3 separate regions of the Homo sapiens genome follow, and regions 2 and 3 are each linked to region 1. The links come from fine-mapping of genetic effects on gene expression. A gene starts in region 1. Each other region holds a variant in brackets. All regions are shown on one strand. Distances are from middle to middle.

Region 1 (8,188 bases):
ATTGATAAAGAAAATGTGGTATATACATGCAATGAAATATTATTTGGCCTTAAAAAAGAAGGAAATCCTGCCATTTGTGACAATATGGATGAACCTAGAGGACATTAATCTAAGTGAAACAAGGCAGGGACAGGAGGATAAATACCACATAATACAACTTATATTAGGAATCTAAGATAGTCAAACTCATGGAACCAGAGAGTGGGATGGTGGTTGCCAAGGACTGGGTGAGGGGGAAACAGGGAAGTGTTAGTCAAAGGTCAAGATGTATAATTCTTAGAGATCTATGCTACAGAATAGTGCCTATTGTTCATAATACTGTATTGTATACTTAAAAATTTGCTAAGAGCACAATTTCTTTGTTAAGAGTTGTTACATGCACACACAAAATAATAAATAAAGAGAGTGAGAGGAAACTTTTAGAAGTGGTGAATACGTTTATGGCATATGTTGTGATATTTTCACAGACATATACTAATCTCCAAACTCAAACTCATCAAGTTATGTACACTAAATATGTAGAGTTTATTATATGTCAATCATAACTCAATAAAGTGTTTTTTTTTTTTAAAAAGACCATTAAGTCTTTGTTTAGTGAGTCCAAAGTTTGTGGTTCTTCTGGAACAGATTATGTTCATTTCTTCTGTAAATGGTCCATACTTTCTCATATCTTTGCATGCATCATAATTTTTGGTTGAAAATTTTTGGTTGACACTTTGACTCTTACAGTAACTCTTGAAATCAGACTCTTCCTTCTGCTTGGGGTTTGTTTTGGTTGCTTGGGGTTTGCTTTGGTTGCTTGGTGTTTGTTTGATGACTTTTCTAAACTACTTTTGGCAAGTCTATTCTTTATCACATGTGGTCTTTGAAGTCTGTTCCTTTGACTTATATTCAGCTAGTATTTAGACAGAGATTTCCTTCAATGCAAGAGGAGGGAGAGAGAGAGAGAGAAGAAAAAGAAACCCAGAAAAACAAATCAAAATCTCAAAATCTCTCCCAGTCTTTGCAGATTGGTTCTGTCCTGGGCACTCACTCATCCAGGCCATTTGCAACTCTACCTTAGCCTTCACTTCATACTTGCACTGAACTTAGACAACCACCAGAGGTGCAGGCTCAGAGTCTTCTGAGGTCTTTCTGAGCATGTATCCTGCCCTGAGCATGTATGGGGCTTCCTAAACTCCCCAATACACACAGGCACTTTTGAATGCCCTAATTTTCCATAGGATCTTAGTTTTTCCCCATGCTTTGGTGCTCTGTTGTGTGCCTCCACTGTAATCCTTTGCCCCAGACAGCTGAGATTGCTCATTAATCTTGCAATGCCTGTGCTTTGTAATATTAATGCTTTTCTGCTCTGAGTTCTGAGCTAGGTGAAACCAAGACAAGTGCCTGGGGTCTGTCCTACAGGAAGGCCTTAGGATAGAAAAGACAAACACATTATTTTTGAATAAGGTCTTCTCTGTTCTTTCCAGTGCTAGGGAACCGGGTCCCTCCCTGAGTGAGAAACGTACATGGTCAGTGTTTGCTGCACCAGAGTTAGGAGAATTTCTTCCATATTAGATAGACAGATTTATATACTTTCCCATGGAAGATTAAGAAACTGAAATCTAAGATACATGAAGAAATTGTAAGTGGAAAGGCCACTTAGTGGTTGGTTTACAACAGTATTATAAGTGATAGGGTGATAGAAGTGTGGTAAGTGATTAGGATAATATTCTGCATAGTAAGAGAAACAGTTTGTATTTTTAGAAGAAAATTGCTTTAACATTTGCAAACTAAGGTAATGAGAATACAGTGAATTTCAAAATGTCTTTTTAATGACAATGTGTGAACTTGTTTTAATAAACCAAAATTTGTTGTTATTGTGTTAAGGCTATTTTATGTACTCAGATATCCTTCAAGACCACTGCCAAATTAGGGAGGGTATGGGGCAAGGACACAAAGGACAGACACGCAAAATGCTACTAAGCTTTCATACCATTTTTAGTTGCCTGTTCCTGCATTCAACATTTTCTTAGGTGCTATAAACCTTTGACTGTTTTCCAGAGTTCTAAATAAAGTTGGTTCTGACAGCTTCCCTTTGGTTTCTGTAGAAATGGATTTTTGGTTTTTGGTTTTGGTGGATCTGCCTACTCTGCCATTTCCGCTGCCATCACTTGCACTGCACACCCTCCTGTGTGCCACCCTTGTTTCCAGGATGTTGTCATTCTGCTTAACATTACCCCAGTTCTTTCTCTCTAAAATGCCACCCATATGTGCCTGAGTTTGTAATAAAATTTTAGGGTAAAATAAAATTTAGGGTATCAGTTGGTGATTACGTCACAGCACAATTATGGTAGGTAATCATGTTGACTGAAATATTTGGCTTCTCTGTTTTTTTTTTTTTTTTTTTTTTTTTTTTGAGACAGGATCTTGCTGTGTCACCCAGGCTGGAATACAGTGGCATGATCAGAGCTCCCCGCAGCCTCAAACTCCTGGGCTCAAGCAATCCTCTTGCCTCAGCCTCCCAAAGTACTGGGATTACATGCGTGAACCCCCACACCTAGTCAGCTTCCTTGTTGTTGAACATCCTCTGGTTATTCCCCCCATTAGAAGGCCCCAGCAGCCACTCCCACTGTGCTATGGGTTTCTTTTCCATCTTTTCTGAATCCCCTAGTTTCCTTGTCTGAGTAGGTTCAGTAAAACCGAAAACAGAAAATAGAATCACCAGTAATCTTATTAGCCAATGATAGCAACTATTAACTGTTTGATACATACACTGTAAGATCTTTTAGTCATATATATAAGTAGGTATAAGTATGCATTTATATATATGCATATAAACACACATACATATGTGTGTGTGTGTTTTTCTTCAATAAAAATAAAATTGTAGTAAGGACTTTTTATTTAGATAAATATGTCATTTCAATGGCTATGTAATAGTTCAATTTTGGATATACAATAATTTAACCAGTGTCTTATTAATAAGCATTTAGTTATTTCCATTTATTCTCTATTATAAACATTGCAATGATGGCAACTATTTTAGAAGTTACAAGAATCTTAAAGTGTGTTTTCTTAAGTAGTTTTCTTTAAATATTTTCTTCTACAAGCTGGCACTAAGACAAGATAGTTTTGGATTGCCACCAAAGTTGGCAATCATCAATAAGTATCCAAAATATTTTAAACATTTTTCACCTTAATAGATGACACTCTAACTTCAATAAAATATGTCATTTCAGTTTCGAGTTCCTTTGTAGCCCACAAAGCCTTCATTCTGATCAAATGGATTCATTTATTTGGAGGGGCCTAGTGCATTGCTGCCTTCCTATGGTAGCACTTGCTGCTTTTCCTGGCTAAAGAAGCTGGAAATCACTCCTCTTTCTCACCACTGATCACATGTAATACAGAATTAAACGTTCAGCTCAAATCCTACTTGATCTATAATCTCTTCATGACCTCTCAGCATGAAGTGATTTGTCCTCTCATTGAAGTCCTTTACCACATATTTGTATCACTTTTGACAATTAAATATATACTGTCTTGTAACTTGCACTTTTGTGTTTTCAGATGTTTCAAATTTGCTTATTATTTCCCCTTTCTATAACTATAGAGCGTACTAAGAGGCTGTTGAAGGAAGAGATCAGTCTCACTGTCTTCGTAGCACTGTACCTTACACACAGGAGGAGCCTGGTAAATATTTTTGATTTACTACAATTACAGTAAATCACAGCCTTGTATTAGTAAAATTCTTGTTCAGTTCAATGCCTCTGCATATATAAGCACATAAAAAGAACTATTTTTAAAAAATCACTTTTATCAAGATATTAACATAAAACATTTGTTGCTGACTATAGAGTGGCATTGTTGTAACTGAACTATGTAATATTTAAATCAAAATTATATATTTAAGATTATTTTCTATGTTTTTACAACCTTTAAATTATCAATTAAAATTGTTTGCATAAAGGTTGAATTACTTACCTTGCAAAACCTTAAGTGGAAGCACAGAAATAACAGGAAAACATGAAGAAGCTTCATGTTGGAGGTGTTCGGGGTCTTTGTCTCTGCTGAGAACTCTTTTCCACTCCAGGTATTCTTTTGAAATTTAATTTTTAACCTCTGAAAAAATGTTTCAAAAGAACAAACCTCCTAAAGAGCTTTGTACTTTTGAACTCTGAAAGAATTTGGCTGAAATCCAGAGAGATTTACCGTAACTGAAACCAAAAAATGGCCTTCCCATTAAAGAGCTGAGGGAGGTGACCAATAGGAACTTGTTTCCACCAGAAGAGACTGATTTCCTCCCACCCTGTTAATTGCAATGACTCAATTCTGTATTCCAGGGAAGACAGAAATTATATTGGAAGCAATTTTTTGGTTTTTTTTTTGTACAGTAAAAATATAATTTTTTAAACTTAAGGTTGAAGACTAGGAGACAGTAAGAATAAAAGTAGACCATATAGTGAAGGCTGCAAAATACATTTAAAACTCTAGAAACCAGCTTCTTTACCATGCATTTGTTGTGCTGTGATCAAATTGTATTTTTGGAGTACAAGAAATTTTAAAAACAAGTATTCTTGTGCCAGTACCAACTATCATGCAGGGTTTATCTATTTATGAAATAAATCTGTGATAGCAGAAATGCTGACACAGTTGGGTTCATCAGAAGCAGACTTGAGACAGTGAGTGTGGGGCACAAGTGTTTGTTAGGGATCGATATCCATACAAGGAAGGGAGGGGAAGCAGGGGTGAACAGAGGTAGAAGTTGAACTGGAGTGAGTGTGACCTGTCACAGTGCCCCTGATTTCAGTATAAATGGCTGGGCCATTATATTCTGCCTTGCTTGGTCCCCTACTATATATTGCCCAGGAAGGGCATACACTTAGGTGAGACAGTTTTCTGTAGCTAAGGCAGACACAGAAGGATCTGACAGTTATGTGCTATCAGGAGGAGGTATCTTCTGACTACACTCTTTACAGCCAGGTAGCAAGACCTTCCTTGACAAGGGTTCTGGGAAACTCATCTCTGTGTCTTTCAGAGTACATACTTGCACCTCTTAGATCTATGTTCCATATACACTCCAGGAGTGGCTCCTTAAACATTTCAGTGGGTCCCTATTCTTGAGAGAAAACTTAGAAGAGGAAGTTAATGGGAAAAACTACAGCTCCTACCCTTGCAGTTGATCTTGGGGCTGTAGTTGAAACTTACCCTTGGCCCCCTTCCTATCCATTTTAGATTCCCTTTACCTTGACCTCCCACCTCTGCTGGTCTCGGTGACTTACTGGATGACATGTCCCACACTCTCTTTCAGGAGTGGTCTGAGCCCCTGGTTACCTTTTGTTTCTCAGGCAAAAGTTGCCATTTTTATCCCTACTGTCACAAGAGGCAGGCTGGACATGGTGGCTCACTCCTGTAATCCCAGCACTTTGGGAGGTCAAGGCAGGAGGATTGCTTGAGGCCAGGAGTTTGAGATGAGCCTGGGCAACACAGGGAGAGGTTGAGGCTGCAGTTAGCCATGATTGCACCACTGCACTCTAGCCTAAGTGACAAAGAGAGACCCTCTCTTAAAAAAGAAACCAAAAAAAGCAAAAAATAAGAGGTACCCCAGTAGGTTATGTGGGTTCTACACATCTTCCTCCCTGCCCACATTATAGTAATAGCAGCCCTACTTCCTCGGAATGATCAGGGCCAATTACCCTTGTGGATTCTGACTCTTTCTTGCTAGTTCCTAGACACAAAGAGCCCAGCGTACCCCAGGCAACAGCTCTGGTTTATAATTCCATGGGACTCTTGCTTGCCCCTGGTGAAAGTATAGTCCTTTGGAGACCAAGATAACGAACCCTGCAGAGTCTACAACTGTGGAGACAAGATGCACAAAGCCCCCAGTTGGTCAATGGTGGTGATGGTAAGTGTGGTAATTCTTGCCTTTATTCCTTGGTTCCCAGACCCAGGTATTCTTCCTATTGGGAACATAATGCTATATGAAAGTCTTTGATTGAATGTATATACTGCTTCCTGGAGGATAGCACCCCATTCTCACAAAGTTTTGCATTTAACTGGCACCTCAGCTCTGTCCTCAGCAGCCCATTATAACATTCTGTAAGTCCACCAGCTTCTGAGTGGTGTGGTATGTGATATGACCAGGGGATTGCATGATCACAGGCCCACTCCTGGGCCTGCTTTGCTGTAAAGTGGGCACCCTTGTCTGGCAGGATGTGATCTTTGCTAGATAATTAAGCACTCTATAATTCTCTGGATTATGGTGCTAATGGAGGCCCTGCAGGCAAGAAAGGCACACTCATACCTCAAATATGTCTATTCCTGTAAGAATAGACCACTGACCCTCCAAAGAGTGAAAGAATCAGATGTAATTAATTTGCCACTAAGTGACTAGTTGGTCTCCTTGAGGAATTGTGCCATCTTGTGGGGACAGTATTAGTGTCAGCTGCTGTCAGGTTGGGCATTTGTTAATGATGGGAGCTAGATAAGCCTCGGGGTCTGTGCTATTGGCCTCATGGGTGGCCTCTATCTCTGTTACCACGGTCACTTCATTCTTGTGCCCATCGTGCCAGCAGTGGGGTGGCTGATGACTGAGACTCAGTCATTTTGGCTCAATCGTTTTGTTGAGCCAAACTGGTTGAGCCATTTTGTTGGTTATTTAGTGCCTTTTCTTTGGTGGATGCTTTCTAGTAGGCATTAACATGTGATACAAAGATTTTTTTTCCTTTTTCTTTTTTCTCTCTCTCTTTTTTTTTTTTTTTTCTGAGACAGTGTCTCGCTCTGTCACCCAGGTTAGAGTGCAGTGGCGTGATCTCGGCTCACTGCAAGCTCCGACTCCCGGGTTCATGCCATTCTCCTGCCTCAGCCTCCTGAGTAGCTGGGACTACAGGCGCCCGCCATGACGCCCGGCTAATGTTTTGTATTTTTAGTAGAGATGAGGTTTCACTGTGTTAGCCAGGATGGTCTTGATCTCCTGACCTTGTGATCTACCTGCCTCGGCCTCCCAAAGTGCTGGGATTACAGGCGTGAGCCACCGTGCCTGGCCATGATACAAAGATTTGTATACTTCATGCCCAGTCCTGTATGTACACATATCCATTCTAGATTCTCTTCACTCCGACCTCCCACCTCTGCTGATCTCAGTGACGTACCTGATGACATGACCCACGGTCTCTTTCAGGAGTGGTCTGAACCCTTGGTTACCATTCACTTCTCAGGCTAAAGTTGCTGTTTGCCTCCCAGAACTTTTTGCTCTTGATCTTTGAATATTTTTCATTTCAGGAACAAAAGATGATCAGGAAATCACTATTGCCTGTGATTCTATATAAGTCTAGCCTCAGGCCACCTCTCTTTCCACACGAAGTGGATGACCAGGTGTACCCCCTGCAGCTCTGCCCTTTGGGAGGACTTTCTCTCACCACTGTCTTTCAAAACCACTCCAAAGTGTGGCTGTAAAGCTGCCTCTGTCTATTTTTAACTTGCCTATATACCAAGCCAACCCATCTGTAAACAAAATGTGACCTTTTCTCTCCTCCTTCAGCTGGTCATACCAAATTCCCCAGGGAGCTATAGGTGTGAGCTAAGGAAGGGCCATGAGTGCAACTGTTTGGATGCTGGGGACAGGGGCAGTCTGGGCTACCTGCTACCTGTTTATGCACATTGCTCATACCTCTGGTCCTGTTTGTGTTTGGCTCTGGATGTCACACTTCTATCTTACAATACATTTTTCCTAGGCCTGCTTGTCCTTATACTTTGCGGGTCCATTTGGATCCAGATCATAATGGGCAGTTCTGGCCGTATGGTGATGTAGTGTCCTGTGATTCATTATTCTACATTTACCAGGAACCAGTAATATACAAATTGGTCTTTAAAAGACACACAATTCTCTGCTGCAGATGGCATGGCCTTGCTCCAGAACCCTGAGGTCCTATATTGTGGTTCTCCCACAGGATCTTCCTCAAACACCACACAGCATTTTTTCCCCCATCACTGAGACTTCTGATGCCATAGAGTCTGCTGGACCACTGCAGAAGCCATTTCTGCTTTGGCAGCTGGAGCAGTATTCCCTACTGCAGAATATTTGCTCCCAGAGTCCAAAAAGCCTCATCAGATTTTGTGCTTCCTTCTTTGTTAAAGAAAGTACAAGATACAATAATTTGTCTTTTACATTAAAGAGGATGTGCTAGCACGTTCCTGAACACTGGTTTCC
Region 2 (8,188 bases), 60 kb before region 1:
CCACCTTCAGGCGAGCTCACAGAAGCAGCAATGTCCAGTGCCCAGGCTCTGCAGTACAAGCTGTACGTGGAGACTGGGACCCATGCTAGTGGCCATGGTAGTCTCTGATGGAGCAGTCCTGCAGTGTGGTCTGTGAGCGTTATTTCCAGATGTGTAGACTCCAATTCTCTGGCTCTTTTGGAAATTCTGTGAACTGCATAATATCTTTGAATAAATCTATTTTTTCATTAAACCAGTTAGATTGGCTTCTGTAGTCTGGAATTAGGAGCGCTGAGACAGACCTCTAAACTAGGAGAAGCTTGGAGTCAGGTCATCTCACTCCTGCTGTTCCTGGTCTCTGTCACATAGAGTCGCTTCAGAGGGCTGACTTTCACCCTTCAAGGCTTGACCCTGGTCTACTTTTCTGTGAAGCTGCCAGATGCTAGGTCACTGTGCAGACTGGCTTGGCCCTTTTGGGGGCCCCCTTCCTAGATTGGCTGAGGATGCCCTATATGCTGGGTTTCCCACCTTGTAGCACTGGAGTACTTTTCTTTTTTTTTTTTTTTTTTTTAAGACGAGGTCTTGATCTGTCACCCAGGCTGGAGTGCAGTGCTGCAATCACAGCTCACTGCATCCTCAACCTCCTGGGCTCAAATGATCCTCCCACCTCAGCCTTCCAAGTAGCAGGGGCTGCAGATGTGCACCACCACTCCCAGCTTTTTTTGTGTGTGATAGAGATGGGGTCTTGCTATGTTGCCCAGGCTGGTCTCAAACTTCTGACCTCAAATGATCCACCAACTTTGGTCTCCCAAAGTGCTGAGATTACAGGTATGATCCACTGCGCCCAGCCACTTTTCTCTTTTTATCTCATACACAGACATATTCTAAGGTGCTGCGTTGCTCCCGGATTGCTGAGTCAGGACAAGGTGGTTTTCAAATATGTCCATAAATTCTTTGATACACCTCCTCCCTGCCGCCATCAAGAGATGGGTTATTTCCTTTCCTTTGAGCCTGGGCAGGTCTTTGTGATGCTAAGGGACTTCCAAAGCTGGGTTAGAGAAGGCCATGCAGGTTCTGCAGTTTCTCTTGGGAGGCTCATCGGCTGCTATGTAGGAAGTCTGGTGCCCCCGGCCCTGCCATGTTAAGAGCCCATGGGGAGAGTGCAGAGAGACATATCTGAGAAGCCCCAGCTGTCTAAGTCCGCCCAGCCCAGGCACCAAACACATGAGTGAATAAGCCTTCGTGATAACTCTGGTCCAATCCTGTCTGACGGCAACAGCATGAGAGACTGGAAGGGGAACTTCCCAGCAATAAATAACCAAATACTTTCCTGAATTTAATGGATGAAAAATCTGGGCAGCATGGGAGGGAGGAGTGGTGAGTTATTGTTTAATAGATATGAAGTTTCAATTTGGGGAGATGAAAATTTTCTGCAGATGGATGGTGATAATGATTGTACAACAATGGGCATGTATTTAATGTCACTCAACTTTACACTTACAAATAGTTAAAATTGTTACTTTTATGTTATACATATTTTACCACAATTTTTAAAAGAAAATCTGGGCAGTAACTGATTTTGGAATATATGTAAAAATGGGTATTTATATTATTAAATCAGTAGGGATCTATCCAAGACTGGCCCTAAATAAAATAATAAAGGGAATATTTATGTGAAACATATATGTCTGTCTTCAGGATAAAGATAGCTGTGCTTAAAAAAAAAAAAAAGAGTAGCTAATGTTTATTCACTGAGCAGCCTCTATGAGGCAAGTGGTAGGGATGTAGCCAGAAGGAAGACAAATGAGGTCTCTCTTGTCATGTGTCTTATGTTGTAGTTGGAGGAGACAGTGTTGAGAAGAGGTAGACAACCCAATCAAAACAGAATACACTGGGGGAAGAAAAGTACTATGCTGAGATTAAAGTAGGTGGTGTGACAGAGGGAGACTGGGCACCTACAATAGCCTTGGGGTCGGGTGGGGGTGCTATTTTCTGTAGGTTAAGAAAGTGCAACTGTTGAGTTTGGGTTGACCACTTTTCTTTTGAAATGTTACTAGATATTCACATGGCAATGGTATATACTAGTGTTCAGTGGCATATACTAATCTGAGGTTCTAGGAAAGGTCAGAGCTGAAGATCCAGATTTGTGAGTCACCGGACTGTAGGCAGGATTTAAAACGTAGTCTAGATGAGATTACCAGGGAAAGGCAAAGTGAGAGAAGCAACCAGAAGGAAGAGGCTGAGAACAGCAGTGAGGGAGGAGTGTGATGCCCTGAGGGGCTAATGCTGCTGCGATGAGAACAGAAGTGACTGTGAGGTCTGACACCATGGAGGTAGGTGGTTGTATTGAATTATCTGTGGATAGGTTTAGAGAGAGGGTCAAGGAATGCTTGTGAAATGGGGGAGCAAAGGCTAATTTTTCAAGAAATGTTAATACTTAAAGAAGCAGGGGCCTGGTGTGGTGGCTCACGCATGTTATCCCAGCACTTTGGGAGGCCAAGGTGGGAGGATCCCTTGAGCCTAGGAGTTCAAGACCAGCCTGGGCATCAAAGCAAGATGCCTCTCTACAAAAATTTAAAATTAGCTAGGCATGGTAGTGTGCACCTGTAATCCCAGCTACTCGGGAGACTGGGGTGGCATGATTGCTTGAGCCCAGGAGTTCAAGGCTGCAGTGAGCTATGATGGCACTTCTGCAGTCCATCCAGGGCAACAGAGGGAGACTTTGCCTCAAAAAAAGAAAGAGAGAAAGAGAAGAAAGAAAAGAGAAAAAGAAAGAAAGAGAGAGAAAGAGAGAAAGAAAGAAGGAAAGAGAGAAAAGATGAGAAAGAAATAAAGAGGAAGCAGGGAAATGGGACAAGAGCTGTGAAGTCAGTTATTACCCTGTGACAGGTACTATGCCAAACATTTATGTAAGTATGTAGTTTCATTTTCACAGAATTCCAGTTTCCATTTTATAGGTGGAAAAGGAGACACAAAGAAGACAATAAATTGTCCAGGGCATAGTAGGTGATAGAGCTGGGATTTGAACCCAACCTTATGTAAGTCCAACATTATTCAATTAGTTGTAACTTCAGTCAATAAATCACTCCCGCATTGAGATAATTTAATAAAATTTTCTGATAAATAAAACTTGTATGCTTCACCAAAATAT[T/A]TATTTGAGAATTATACAACAAAATTCCAATATGGCATAAACTCTGTGGAGACCTTTAAAAATATCCAGTGAGATTTGCTTCATTTTTCCCCCCTAGAGAATTATTAATTATACCGTTTTATTTCCATTAAATGGAACTCTTGAGAGAAAAAGAATAGAATGAAGAGAGAGATCACAATTTTATACATTGTACTGAGAAATAAAAGGCCTTCCTACATGGTAGCTAATCCAGTCAAAATAATTGGCCACTTTGGTGTAAACACCTGGGAACTCTGGTTTTCCACAGTTTTCCCCCCAACTCACAACACCCCAGACATAAGTCACATTGTTGGCATCCATACAGACTAAGGGGCCTCCAGAGTCCCCTTTACAGGCATCGATGGAACCATCATATGTACCTAAGAAAGAAATGTGAAAGAGAAAATCACACATTTCCTTCCATTTTTCAAGGCTGCCATGCCTCCTCCATGGCATTTAACAACTTTGGCTTTTTTACAGTTTCCTGACAGCAATAGCATGGGCTCTCCTTAGAGTCCCTGGCTGGGCTTGCAGAGTTGCAGAGATGCAGCTTGGAAAATTCTTTACGAGTCTTCTATTTATTCCCCCAATTCAGCATGTTCTTCCTGTGTTCTCTACTTTATACGACTGAGTACTGAGATGAGATTGCAACCTGAAAGTTGCATCAAATGCTGAGTAGGAAAATGATGGGACTGCCTAGTGCTTACTGAGTGCTAAATATTTATTAGTCATTCATTGTCTTCATTCTTACCACAACCCTATGAGGCAAATATCATTATTGCCCCTATTTTATACATAAGACAACTATGACACGGAGTTTAACTTGTCTAAGGTCACACAGCTAACAAACGACAGGGCCTGGACTTGAACCCAGGCAACCACACCTCAGAGCTTGTCCTCTTGACCATGATACTCCCTTTTGGGAGATTTTGTGCTATTCACCTATTTTGTCCACTGTAATCCTGAACTCCATTTCAAGATGGGAGGACACTTTCTTCTTACTCATGATTTTCTGAGATTTTTAAATCACTGTAACCAGTAAGTTATAGGATGTCAATAACTGCCTTTTCAGTAATACACCATTTAGAAATGGTTTCAATAAAGCACCTAAATGCACTACACTGGCTGGTACTTTGCCTGCCTCTGTATCACCTCCAAAAGTAGGAGCTGCTATTGTTGTATTGGGCAGTAGAATTAGCTTAACCATGTTATCAAAGGAGTCCGTGGCGTAAGAAATGCGCTGTGATTTCCATGGAGGGAAAAATTTACTTCCAAATGGAAGTAAATCTCATCTCATTTGAGATGAGATAACTTGAATTTGTATTTAAAAGTAATTTAGTTTTGATCCTGGGTGTACCACCTCTTGTCTGTAAGACTTTGGACAAATTATGTAACTGCTCTGCATCTCAGATGCCTTATCTATGATCTTCAATTTTACAAATGAAGAAACCTGCTCAAGGTCACATGACTAGCAATTAGTAAAAGCTGGGATATAAATCTAGGTCTGGTTCCAGAGGCCGTGCTCTTAGTCACCTTGCTGTGCTGCTATAGAATCGCTTAAGGAGGATTTTTCCTCATAGTATTAGAGGAAGAAACCTGAGCTACAGGGAAGGGACTGAAAGAGTTTGAGAGTGCTACAGCCAGAAGGCCAAATGGAGGGAATTAGGGCCCAAAGCATGGGGGCTGATGTGGTGGGAGGAGATGTTTGATAGGGGAAATACATACATCTTGACATCTTGGATAAACCACTTGGCACTTACCTGCACATTCCATTTCTTTTTCATAGAAACGATTTCCGTAAAACTTAGAGCAGTTGCTTATTAGTTTAACTTCACCCCACTGAAGTGAAAAGACTCTTTCGTTATCTAAACAAAGTGAGAAAGCAAACATTTAGAAGTCACAAATGAGAAATCTAAATACATACTCTCATAACTTAAACCATTGGGATTATGAAAGGGTGTATAGTTTTCAATATATATAAATTTTTGAGAACTCTTCCTTAGCGTGTTTAATCATATCATATGTCTATTTCTAAAATTGGATGGATAGTCAAGGGGGACTATTGAACATATGGTCTGAAGTCACATTCATTTAATAAAGAGCTGGTACCTTAAGTTGAATGAGATAAATCTTTCCCTTTTGGTTGCAGAACTCAGTCAGGCAATTGGATAGGAATCAGTGATAAGGTCTTTTCACATAAATACCTCCTATCTTCTCACAGTCCCTTATTTCCTTGAGAATGTTTGTTAAAGCAAAAACAATGTTTTAATATAAGAACTTCAAATAAAGGAAATACATACGAAGTTATCAATGTTTGTGTGTTTTTGTGTGTCTGAGAAGAAAAATCCATCTCCTAAGTGATTTGAAGTTATTTAAAAGGGGATTTAAGATTTTCTTCCTCAAGTGATCTGCCCCACTCAGCCTCCCAAAGTGCTGGGATTACAGGCATGAGCCATCGTGCCCAGCCAGGAAGGAGTTTATTTTTTTTTTCCTTTAAGCTCTACTTCAAGTTAGTCTCAAGACACCTGCCTTCCTTAGAACAAGAGCTTTTTTAAAAATAGTAATTTCTTATTTCCTCTAATTTGGGAAAAGCCTTTAAAACTGTGAGCAATTCTTAATGGCCCAGGAGATAGTTTGTGCCTTGGCACTCTTGTAAGCTTCTTGAGGCAGCTCTCCGACGGTAGCTGAGGCAGCGAAAGGGCAGAATTTTAACTACTAGACTTTAAGGTGGTCAGTAAACACCTTGAGAGCTGGACTTCATCTTTCAGCCATGGAACTTATTCATCCCCTTGTTTGTTGACTGGGTCCATATTTTCCATCAGTGAAATCCTAGCACTTTAGCATTGCTATCTTGCAGACATAGTAAATCCTCAATAAATGTGTTAAACCATTATTAATAAATGTGTTAAACCTTTGATCATTGATTAAGGACATATCTAACTATCAGTTTATATGAAGTACATGGAATAAGGGAACATGTTAAATGCTAGATCAGGCTGGGCACAGTGGCTCATCCCAGGACTTTGGGAGGCCAGGGTGGGAGGATCACTTGAGCTCAGGAGTTTGAGACCATCCTGGGCAACATGGCAAAATCCCATCTCTACAAAAAATACAAAAATTAGCCAGGCATGGTGGTCCCAGCTGCTTTGGTGGTTGAGGTGGGAGGATCGCTTGAGCCCCAGAGCTCAAGGTTGCAGTGAGCTAGGTTTGTGCCACTGCAGTTTAGCCTGGACAACAGAGCAAGACCCTGTCTCAAAAAAAAAAATCCAGATAAAGAATGTGATTAGCCAAATTCAAGGTATGGGAATTCCAAAATAAGAATTACCCATTCTCTTTAATGATTAAATTTTAAATAAAAGGAAGGGGTAACTATTCTAGATTAAAACATTTAAGAAAAATAACCACCAAATGCAATGTGTGGACTTTGTTTGGATCTTGATTCAAATAACCTGATTATAAAAATATTTTTAAAAATAAATGAGGAATATTAAACATGGGCTTTATTTTATTGGGTATGAAAATGGTGTTGTGTCCTTATCTGGTGAAGATATATACTGGAGTATTCATGGGTGAAATTATATGACATCTGGGATATGGTTTAATATACTCCAGGAAAAATATGTGGGGGAATATGTTGAATAGCTCCTGAATGTGCCTCAGACCATTCTCCACCCTTCAATGCCGTGCATCCTGCCCTAAGAGCCTGACCTGTGGCCTCTGGTTCCCAGGTGGTTTTAGACAAAGAGGACCCTAGCAGGAGGGAGGGAAGGAAAGAGGTAGGCTAGTGAGATTGGGACTGGCTATACCCTTCAGCTCAAGATCCTTGCTTCTCTCAAGGCAGCCTGCTCTACCTGAGACTTTTTCTCCATCTAGTAACTTCTCCTACTCTTCCGCTTTCAGATCCAGGAGTTAAGACAGCTCTGGTACCTCTAGTCCTGGGTACCTGCGTAGCCCCTGTGATTCCCCAACCCCCTACGTATATCTTTGTAATGAACCCTTTTATAAATAAATCTTCCTAATTGCTCCATTGAGACCCCAATTAATATGGGGAGATACAACAAGAATGACAGAATGCTGATAACTGTGAAAATTGGATGATGGATAAGTAAGGGTTTATTATACTTTAATCTCTATTTTTGTGTATACTTGTAAATGCACATAATAAAAGATTTAAAAAAACAGAACAAGTATAAGGACACAATACTCTCTTGATGAATTAATTCCTAATACAATTTGGTGTTTTAGAAGTTTTAGGTATTCAGACATACCACAAATCCAGATTAATTTCTACATATATTTTACACCTTCCAATGTGGCAATTATAATGAATGTGTTGGAATATGAGTCTAAAAGACCAATGCAATGAAGGTACTTAGAGTTTCTGCTATCAAAGAGAATTTAAGATGTTGAAAGGAAGCTAAATTTTAAGGTTAAATCTTCCTTTTTTTCTGTTATGCTTGTGGTTGTTTTGAGACAGAGTCTCGCTCTGTCACTCAGGCTAGACTGCAGTAGCACAATCATGGCTCACTGCAACCTCAACCTCCCGGGCTCAAGTGATCCTCCCACTTCAGCCCCCCTCAACCTCCAGGAGCTGGGACTACAGGTACACACCATCACATCCAGCTAATTTCTAAATTTTTGGTAGAGACAGTGTCTCAAACTCCTGGGCTCAAGTGATCACCTGCCTCGGCCTCCCAAAGTGCTAGGATTAGAGACATGAGCTACTATGCCCAGCCCAAGGTTAAATCTTCAAGATGAAGGGAAAGGTGTTGACTAGTTTAATTCTAATCTAATCTCTAATTCAGCAGATCTTTCTAAGAATTTGTCTCTGAGTGTCCACATCTTTTATTCGTATGAAGTGTTCACCACAAGTCTTCTTAGAAGTTCAAAAAATGAATTCCTTATGTTCTTTTTTTCTTTGTAGAGAGGGTAGGTGCTGGGGAATAGGGAAAGAGGGAGGAGGGGAGTGAGAAGGAGGGTTGTGGGCATCAGCGATTCAACATACACCAAGGCTATCCCTTTGTAAACCTTTTTATCTTT
Region 3 (8,188 bases), 39 kb before region 1:
GGAGGCTGAGGTGGGAGAATCCCTTGAACCCAGGAGGCAGAGGTTGCAGTGAGCCTACATTGTGCCACTGCACTCTAGCCTAGGCAATAAAGCAAGACTCTGTCTCAAAAAAAGAAAATAAAAAGAATTCTTGCCTAAAATATTAAACCTTGCTCTTAAAAAAAAGTGTTCATTTGTCATTGACTCGAAGCTCAAAACCTTGGTTATAATCAAGTCTCTCTAAATCTAGAATAGACGTATACTATAGGCAAACGACTCAGTTTCTCTAAAAAAAAAAAAAATAATAATAGTATGAAAAAAATTGGGGTAGGGAGGTGGGGAAGATAACTCTTGATGAATAAAGAAGACTTTAAAAACGTAATAACCAAACAGAACATTCAGATTCTTTTAGATCCTGATTTGAATCTATTCATTCAAAAAAGACATTTTTGAGATAGTTGAGAAAATTTGAACATGGCTGTTATTAAATGACGTTAGTGAATTACTATTATAGTGAATTATTATATCTAACATAGATTTTAGATATACAAATGAGAGAATGAATGGTTTTATATATATATAGTGTTTTTATCACTGGAGATGCATATAAATGATGTGATATGATATCTAAAATTTACTTTAAAATACTGCAACAGGCCAGGTGTGGTGGCTTATGCCTGTAACCCCAGCACTTTGGGAGGCCAAGATCATCTGAGGTCAGGAGTTTGAGACCAGCCTGGCCAACATGGTGAAACCCTGTCTCTACTAAAATACAAAAATTAGCCAGGCATGGTGGCAGGTGCCTGTAATCCCAGCTACTTGGGAGGCTGAGGCAGGAGAATCACTTGAACTCAGGAGGTTGAGGTTGCAATGAGCCAAGATTGTGCCACAGCACTCCAGCCTGGGCAACAGAGCAAGACTTCATCACAAAAAAAGTAATAGTAAATAAAATAAAATACTCCAACAAACATACAAACAAACAAACTGGAAGAGAGATAAGCAAGATTGGCAAACTATCAATAACTTGCAGGTGGAAAATGGGTACTTAAGGATTGGTTCTAATGGTCTATTTTTTGTATGTGCAGTGAGACCGTCTTTTAATAGAAAGTTCTGAAATAACAAGTAGATATTTAGCGGATGAAAATATGAGGAGATGAACATTCCATAGTTCTGCAAATGCCCACTCAGTGTTCTTACTGCTACACCCATCTATGTTCCCCTTAAGATTATACTTTACCTAAAGAAAAGTTTCAGAATCCCTGGATTCAATAATGAAAAAAAGTCACCCCAAGTCTTTCAATTACCTGCACAGCCAACTTCATCTTCCCCTGTAATGCAGTCCACCTCACCATTGCATTGATACTGGCTTGGAATGCAAACACCCGATTTGCAATGGAAGCCTTTGCCTTGGCATGCTGTGCAAACATAAGCAGGAGAGGTTTTTTTCATTCCTTAAAGTTGAATGAGGTACAATATAAAATTCAATAGTAAAGTTGCTTTTCCTCTTTTAGTCAGAAAAATGAATTTAGAGGATTTAGAGGCTAGATTTATGTCTACCTTTACAACACAGTTCATCACTTTGGTCTCCACAATCATTGATACCATCACAGGCTTTCATCTGAGAAATGTATTTCCCATTCACACACTGAAAGAAGTCATCCATTGGAGAATCTGTAAAGCAGGAATTATCTTTGTGAAATTTATTTATGGAGTGGTGGCATGACATCCTTATCAGATTTTTGGGATAATGGAGTCATTAAGAGAAAGTTAAACTTCAAAAAAATGTATAAAACGTATTGGTATTATCAACATAGTACATATGACTCATACAGAAAATAAAGGTCAAACCTGGCTTATGGAGGCTCTTCTATTATCTCTGAAAGTCAGTATTAATTGTGAAAGTCTATATTTGCTGAGATGGGGAGGAATCAAGAGTACGTGCTGACATTGACAAACACTGGTTTCCACCCATTTCTTTCATGCTGCTATACTCATCCTCACCCCTACTCCCAAGACTTGCTTGGTTAGTGCCATTTGTTTACATTTTGGTGGTACTTTTTTTTAGCACTGAAAAGGAGTGGGTATAGGTTTGGTCTTTAAAACTACATGTATGACTAAAATATTCCAGTGTCAGGAAGGAGGAGAAAAGTCTCAATGAATGCCTGAAAACTGAGGCACCAATGTGGTCACTTAAAGGTTTTAAATAAATTCATATATGCTGGCCCTCTTAAAGGAGATGCTGAGCTTTCTTCTTATGTTTGATTGACTTGTGTTTGCTACAGTAACTTTAATCCAGATGTTCAAATGAAGCAAGGGGAGTCAGGCAACTTTGCTTCCCATATGTGAACCTGTAGAGAGGCAATGTTTGAATGGCAAAATGGTACAATAGGGGAAAGGTACCAATTTAGACTCTAAAGCCCAAAACTTGACAGAATCTATATTATTGCCTCTGTGACTGGCAACGAGGCATCAATCATTTGTTTACTATAGGCTTGGTGTAAAATAAACAACCTTCAAGGAAGGGAAAATAACAGGCAAATACTCCACCAACCTGCTTTCTGTGTATAACAAACCACATCAGCGAAATCCTGGTAACCCATAGTTCTTCTCTTAGTAAAAGTACATTCAGCCAAACTGGTCTCTAATCCTCGGCAATGCACATGTAGACATTCAGTGGAATTTATAGAGAGATCAGACAACTTAAACCTTCTTTGAGTATCAGCACCTCTGCAAATAGAATAAAGGAAACATTATGGTAGAATAATTAGTACTTTGCATTTATAACCCTACTGTAGCAGGTAAGAAACTAGAGTAATGTCCTCTCATTCTCTATATAGGAGTTACAGCTTGGGCAAGATACCGAAACTCTGAGCCTCAGTACCTTCATCTATAAAAGGGAATATAACTACCTCACTGGGTTTTGTAAAGATTAACTAAAACTTGGCTGGGGGTGGTGGCTCACGCCTGTAATCCCAGCACTTTGGGAGGCCAAGGAGGGTGGATTACCTGAGGTCAAGAGTTCGAGACCAGCCTGGCCAATATGGTGAAAATCCTATCTCTACCAAAAATACAAAAATTAGCTGGGTGTGGTGGCCTACACCTGTAGTCTCAGCTATTCGGGAGGCTGAGGCAGGAGAATCACTTGAACCCAGGAGGTGGAGGTTGCAATGAGCTGAGATCGTGCCACTGCACTCCAGCCTGGGCAACAGAGTGAGACTCTGTCTAAAAAAAAAAAAAAAAAAAATTTCCATCTTTTCCTTTTGGGAATCTCTCTGCCTGCCCCATGCTGTAAACTTTAGCTGGTTGGTTCAATTATTGCCTAAGACTTGGAAGGTTAGGTTAGTTTAATTCCTGTAGGTCAATTTTGCTTTTACAGTAAGCTACATCTTCACTTCAGCCTTGACAGTATTAAGGTGATATTTTGGCATCTGTGTGCCATTGCTTGGACTTCTCAATTTGCTCAGAATTTGTGAGAAGAGACTTCCTCAGTGACGTATTATCCTAGAGATGATGATTTACAGTGAACTATTCT[T/G]CTAGGACATTCAATTGTTCCTTGCTTCTCTCTAGAAGTAAATGGGGAAAATAGGTTAAAAATAAAAAATTGAGCAAAGATGCATCAGGTAAATGGAAACAAAAATAGAACAGTAATGACAATATAAATATTAGACTAACTAGGATAAAAAGCAAAAATAAAACAAGGTGAAGCCAAGATTTGTAATTATTTCAGATCATGAGGCTGTGCCATGAGAACAAACAAGAGCCATTTGAGGCAATCTTATAGGTTAATAATCTGAAAAACGTACCAACCTAAAAATATCTAAAAATACTATATAAAATGCCATCTTCTTCCTCAATGAGTTCTTAAGGAAGTAAGGGAAATCTGCACTGGTTAAAATTAGAGATGTCTGTTCATGAGCTTATGCAAAATATAAGAGCAAAATACTGAGAAATAAAATACTGAGAGAATCTACCAGTAGGTTGAACCATAAGTTGTAGGTAACAAACTGCTGAAACTCAGAAATAGCCTATGGCTTAATTTAACAATATAAGAGACTCTCACTAATGAACTACTAGCAGATGTGGTTTAAGAAGAAGAAAATTGAATTCAGAAAGAAGGGGTGAGATACAAGAAAGAACAAACCAAGAAGTTGGTAAACATGAAGTAAATCTGAGTAAGCATTGCCTTAATAGTAGTGATAATGGCTTATTATATCATCATAGTGATTAACTTCTGGGATATAGAAAAATAAGGTGGAACTAAATATTAGAAACTTGATGGGTTAATTACATTTTTTTCTATTATTACTGAAGGTGAGGACTTCCTAAATCAATGATTTATGGTATAAGTTCAAAGGTAACTAAAGAAGTAGAAATATAATGCATAATTTTCAAACCAACTAGAGGTGGAAAAGAGGAAAGATTTTTAAAAATCTTTAATTTAGTAGAAATTATAAAAGGAAAAAGGACAAAAGCACACAAAAAGCAGGGTAAATAATAAGCCTAAAAACAAGAGGAAAAATAAATTCAACAATGTAAGTAAGTATAATAAGGTAAATGGACTAAACTCTTTAGTTAACAGTGATTGTAATATTGAATTAAAACAAATCTAGATATGTGCTGTTTATAAGGAACATGCTTAAAATCTAAAGATATAGGAAGACTGAAAGTAAAGAAATAGAGAAAGATCTAAACAGAGCAGCTAATTCTATTAATAATGAGTAACATATCTATTATCTAGAACCCTGCACGTGGAGCATTTGAAAAATACTCAGCCACAAAGCAAGTCTCAACAAATATTTGAAAAAATTGTTATCATACAGGGATATTCTCTAACCACACAGAATAAGAAAATCAATAACACAAAGTTAACCAAAAGCAAACTAACGTATTAATTAAAACTAATATTATAATAAAGAAAACTTCTAAATTACATATGGGGCAAAGAAGAAATTATATTGAAAGTTAGAAGATATTCTGAACCAAACAATAAATAAAATATCACTTATATATAAGTATATATACTATAATTATAGTATATAAGCTATATATAAATTATAGTTTGTACACTATACTCATAGTATATATACTTATATACTATAATTATAGTAAACTATACTATAAAACTATAAACTATAATTTATCCTAACTATATAGTTTATACTATAACTGTATAGTTTATACTCACTGTATAGTTTATAGTATAAACTATATTATATAACTATAAACTATACTCACACACAGTATATAAACTATACTAAGTGTGAAAAAGTGTACATAATTGTAGACGAGTAGGAGACAGACAGAAATGAATGTGTTTGTGACTCTCAGAATCACTAAAGGATTCACATCCAGATACTTCAACAGACTTATTATCCATGCTTTGTTGTCAGCAGGGTTCCAAGTGTTGGGTAAACATGAATGCATATCATCCTCATAACAATGCTATGATGCACATAGTTAATTTTCTTAGGTTACACATATGGAAATTAATACACAGAAAGGTTAGGTAATCAAAAAGCAAACAGAACAATTAAATCAGCCATGAGAAAATCCACTGATACAAGCGCTCACTGTTGAAACCCAAGGTCAAGGCAGGCCACGTTGGCTTCCCTCATGCTCCAGCTGCTTTTGCATATGAACATTGTCTTATCTTGGTCCACAAGTTTTACTTCAACTATTCCCTCTGAATCTGTATTTCCATGCTTCAAGGAAACACTAAACTTTCCTAAAATAAAAAAACAAAATAATGTGCAATATGTAGCCATTCACTTTTTTCTCTTAATTAAAAGTCTTTAAAAATAATAATGTACTTAATGTCAAGTGAGCTTTGAACATCATGACGATTTTAACAAGTAATAGTAAGCAATCATTTTACGAGTATTTATTATGTGTCAGCGGCAGTGCTATTCAGCTGTATAGAGGATCATTAAATACTCACATCAACCCTATGAGGATAAAGCCTATTTATTCCCATTTTTACACAAGGAACCTCTAGGGGAAGTTAAGTTCCTGGCCCAAGTGATGAAGCCAGGATTTGGAACTTGCTCAGTTGATCTCACTCCAAAGTCCATGCTCTCAAAAGTAAGCCCAACCGTGAAAATGTAAAATGTAGAAAGGGTTTATGTATTCTCGTGTATTTAAGGCATTTAATGCCTCAAGAGAAGAAAAGTCTGACACTGATGAAATAACCTCCACTATTGCCTTCTGCCTTTCCAACAGGGATGATAGATGAGCTCAAACAGGGAGCTTTTCCCCTCCTTTTCCACAGTATCTCAACATCTTAACTCAGCATCTCAAAAACATACAGGCTGCTGTGAGCTGATATATGTCATGGTGCCTTTAAAAAGAATGTTTTAAGCATTCCTTAGGTAATGAAGTGTCTGTAATAACTTGCTATCAGAAGACAATGAACCTAAGCTTTGCTGTCAGACATAAAATGTAACAAGCACTTTCTGCATGCCAAGCACTGTGTGAAGAGCCCTGCATACATTGTTTTATTTAATTTTCACAAGAATTGTACAACTTAGAAACTTCACATTTTACAGATGAGGGAACTGGGGTCCAGTGAGGTCCAGCTTGTCAACAACCAAGGTGGGGTTTGGAGGGACTTGAAACTCAATTGGACTGACAGCGAAATCCCTAATCATAACTACCCACTAGTCTGAATGCTAGGGCCCCAGCCTCCTCAGCACATGAAGCACCTGGAAGGGACTGTAGACAAGATCTCTGGGTCTGACGTCTGGGTTTGCTAGGTTGGAGTATGTCCCAGGTCAGCAGTGGCTCAAGCGGCCCTTGGATATTTAGGAACAATGGGGTCAGGGCTGGGGGAGAGGGTTGGGGGGGACGGCTGTTGAAAGAAATTATTGGGGTAGGCCACGCATGGTGGCTCATGCCTGTAATCCCAGCACTTTGGGAGGCCGAGGCGGGCGGATCACAAGGTCAGGAGATCGAGACCATCCTGGCTAACACGGTGAAACTCCATCTCTACTAAAAACACAAAAAATTAGCTGGGCATGGTGGCAGGCACCTGTAGTCCCAGCTACTCAGGAGGCTGAGGCAGGAGAATGGCATGAACCCGGGAGGCAGAGGTTGGAATGAGCCAAGATCACACCACTGCACTCCAGCCTGGGCAACAGAGCCAGACTCCGTCTCAAAAAAACAAAACAAACAAAAACAGAAATTACTGGGGCCACAGGAGGACCTGAGGCCTGACTAGACTACATGTGAGTACCAACCTTACTGGAAGACTTTTCACTGGGTTCTGAACCAACTCAATGGCCCTGGGAATAATCCCTTTAACCAAGTAGAAGTGAGGGTGGGGACAATTCTAAAGGGCTGGGCAGCAGGGAGTGGCACCGGCACTGAAGGAAGGTCTGGACTCAGCATCCCACGCTCTGCACTCAAAGGCTGGCTGGATTCTGGCAACCCCTGATTTGTTTAGTGATTACTCCAATTATTATTGAGAGTCTAGAAAAAAATTTTGAGTTGTCATCATAACATACACAAGAGAATTATTTTCTGATAGAAAGTATGGCATACAAATACCCTTTTATATCATAGAATGACTTGAAAACTAGTCTCTTGCTACCTTCGGCTGTGCATGTTCCGTTATTTAAAAACTTTGTCCCTGGATGAAGACATTCCAAACTCTTTTGTTGACAGTATGTTGGGAAGCTTCTCCTGTTAGTTGCACACACTGCAGTGCCATTCTTTGGGCACTGATACGGTAGTTTACAAACACAGGTGCCCTCAATGCATCTCTGCCATGGCTGGCAGAAGACTTTATCGCAGGAGAGGTGAGTATATTTTTTTGCTAAGCACTTTTTCTCCACCAGATCCTCTTGAGATGTATAAGTGACCTGTAAAATGCAAAATAAACATTAACTTAGCAACAAATTAAAGACTCCTGTTTGAAGATGAGTAAGTGAAGGAAAAGAGCAAAACAGATACAGCCCACAGTACAGATGAGGATGGTGTTGTCTGGTGGCTTCAAGAATCAGAAATAATGCCGCATATCTACAACCATCTGATCTTTGACAAACTTGACAAAAACAAGAAATGGGGAAAGGATTCCCTATTTGATAAATGGTGCTGGGAAAACTGGCTAGACATATGGAGAAAGCTGAAACTGGATCCCTTCCTTACACCTTATACAGAAATTAATTCAAGATGGATTAAAGACTTACATGTTAGACCTAAAACCATAAAA

Alleles and levels. Alleles are on the strand shown, and positions count from the first base shown. SD is a standard deviation of normalised expression in the study named. Not every link is listed here.
As copies of A replace T in region 2, the expression in subcutaneous fat of the gene that starts at base 4,048 in region 1 goes down (large effect, 1.2 SD a copy in FUSION).

The links. PIP is the estimated chance that this variant, and not a neighbour inherited with it, causes the effect.
Region 2: its variant is fine-mapped to the expression of CFI in subcutaneous fat (FUSION, PIP 0.95).
Region 3: its variant is fine-mapped to the expression of CFI in subcutaneous fat (GTEx, PIP above 0.99). The same link has a PIP of 0.9 or more in sun-exposed skin, thyroid and tibial nerve.

Annotation. Positions count from the first base shown.
Region 1 is chr4:109,797,952-109,806,139 of GRCh38, forward strand. It overlaps CFI (complement factor I), which reads right to left and starts at 4,048. Exons shown (of 13, transcript NM_000204.5): 1 at 3,964-4,048. The coding sequence starts at 4,020. LOC124900757 (a long non-coding RNA gene) reads left to right here and starts at 5,721. Exons shown (of 2, transcript XR_007058226.1): 1 at 5,721-5,884.
Region 2 is chr4:109,737,583-109,745,770 of GRCh38, forward strand. CFI (complement factor I) reads right to left here. Exons shown (of 13, transcript NM_000204.5): 12 at 4,909-5,013; 13 at 3,113-3,528. The coding sequence ends at 3,311. Among named protein-coding and RNA genes, the nearest start is that of PLA2G12A, 12 kb to the left of the region's middle. The variant T/A (reference allele first, on the strand shown) is at 3,131.
Region 3 is chr4:109,758,987-109,767,174 of GRCh38, forward strand. It overlaps CFI (complement factor I), which reads right to left. Exons shown (of 13, transcript NM_000204.5): 2 at 7,568-7,838; 3 at 5,551-5,704; 4 at 2,531-2,706; 5 at 1,537-1,650; 6 at 1,284-1,394. Among named protein-coding and RNA genes, the nearest start is that of PLA2G12A, 33 kb to the left of the region's middle. The variant T/G (reference allele first, on the strand shown) is at 3,512.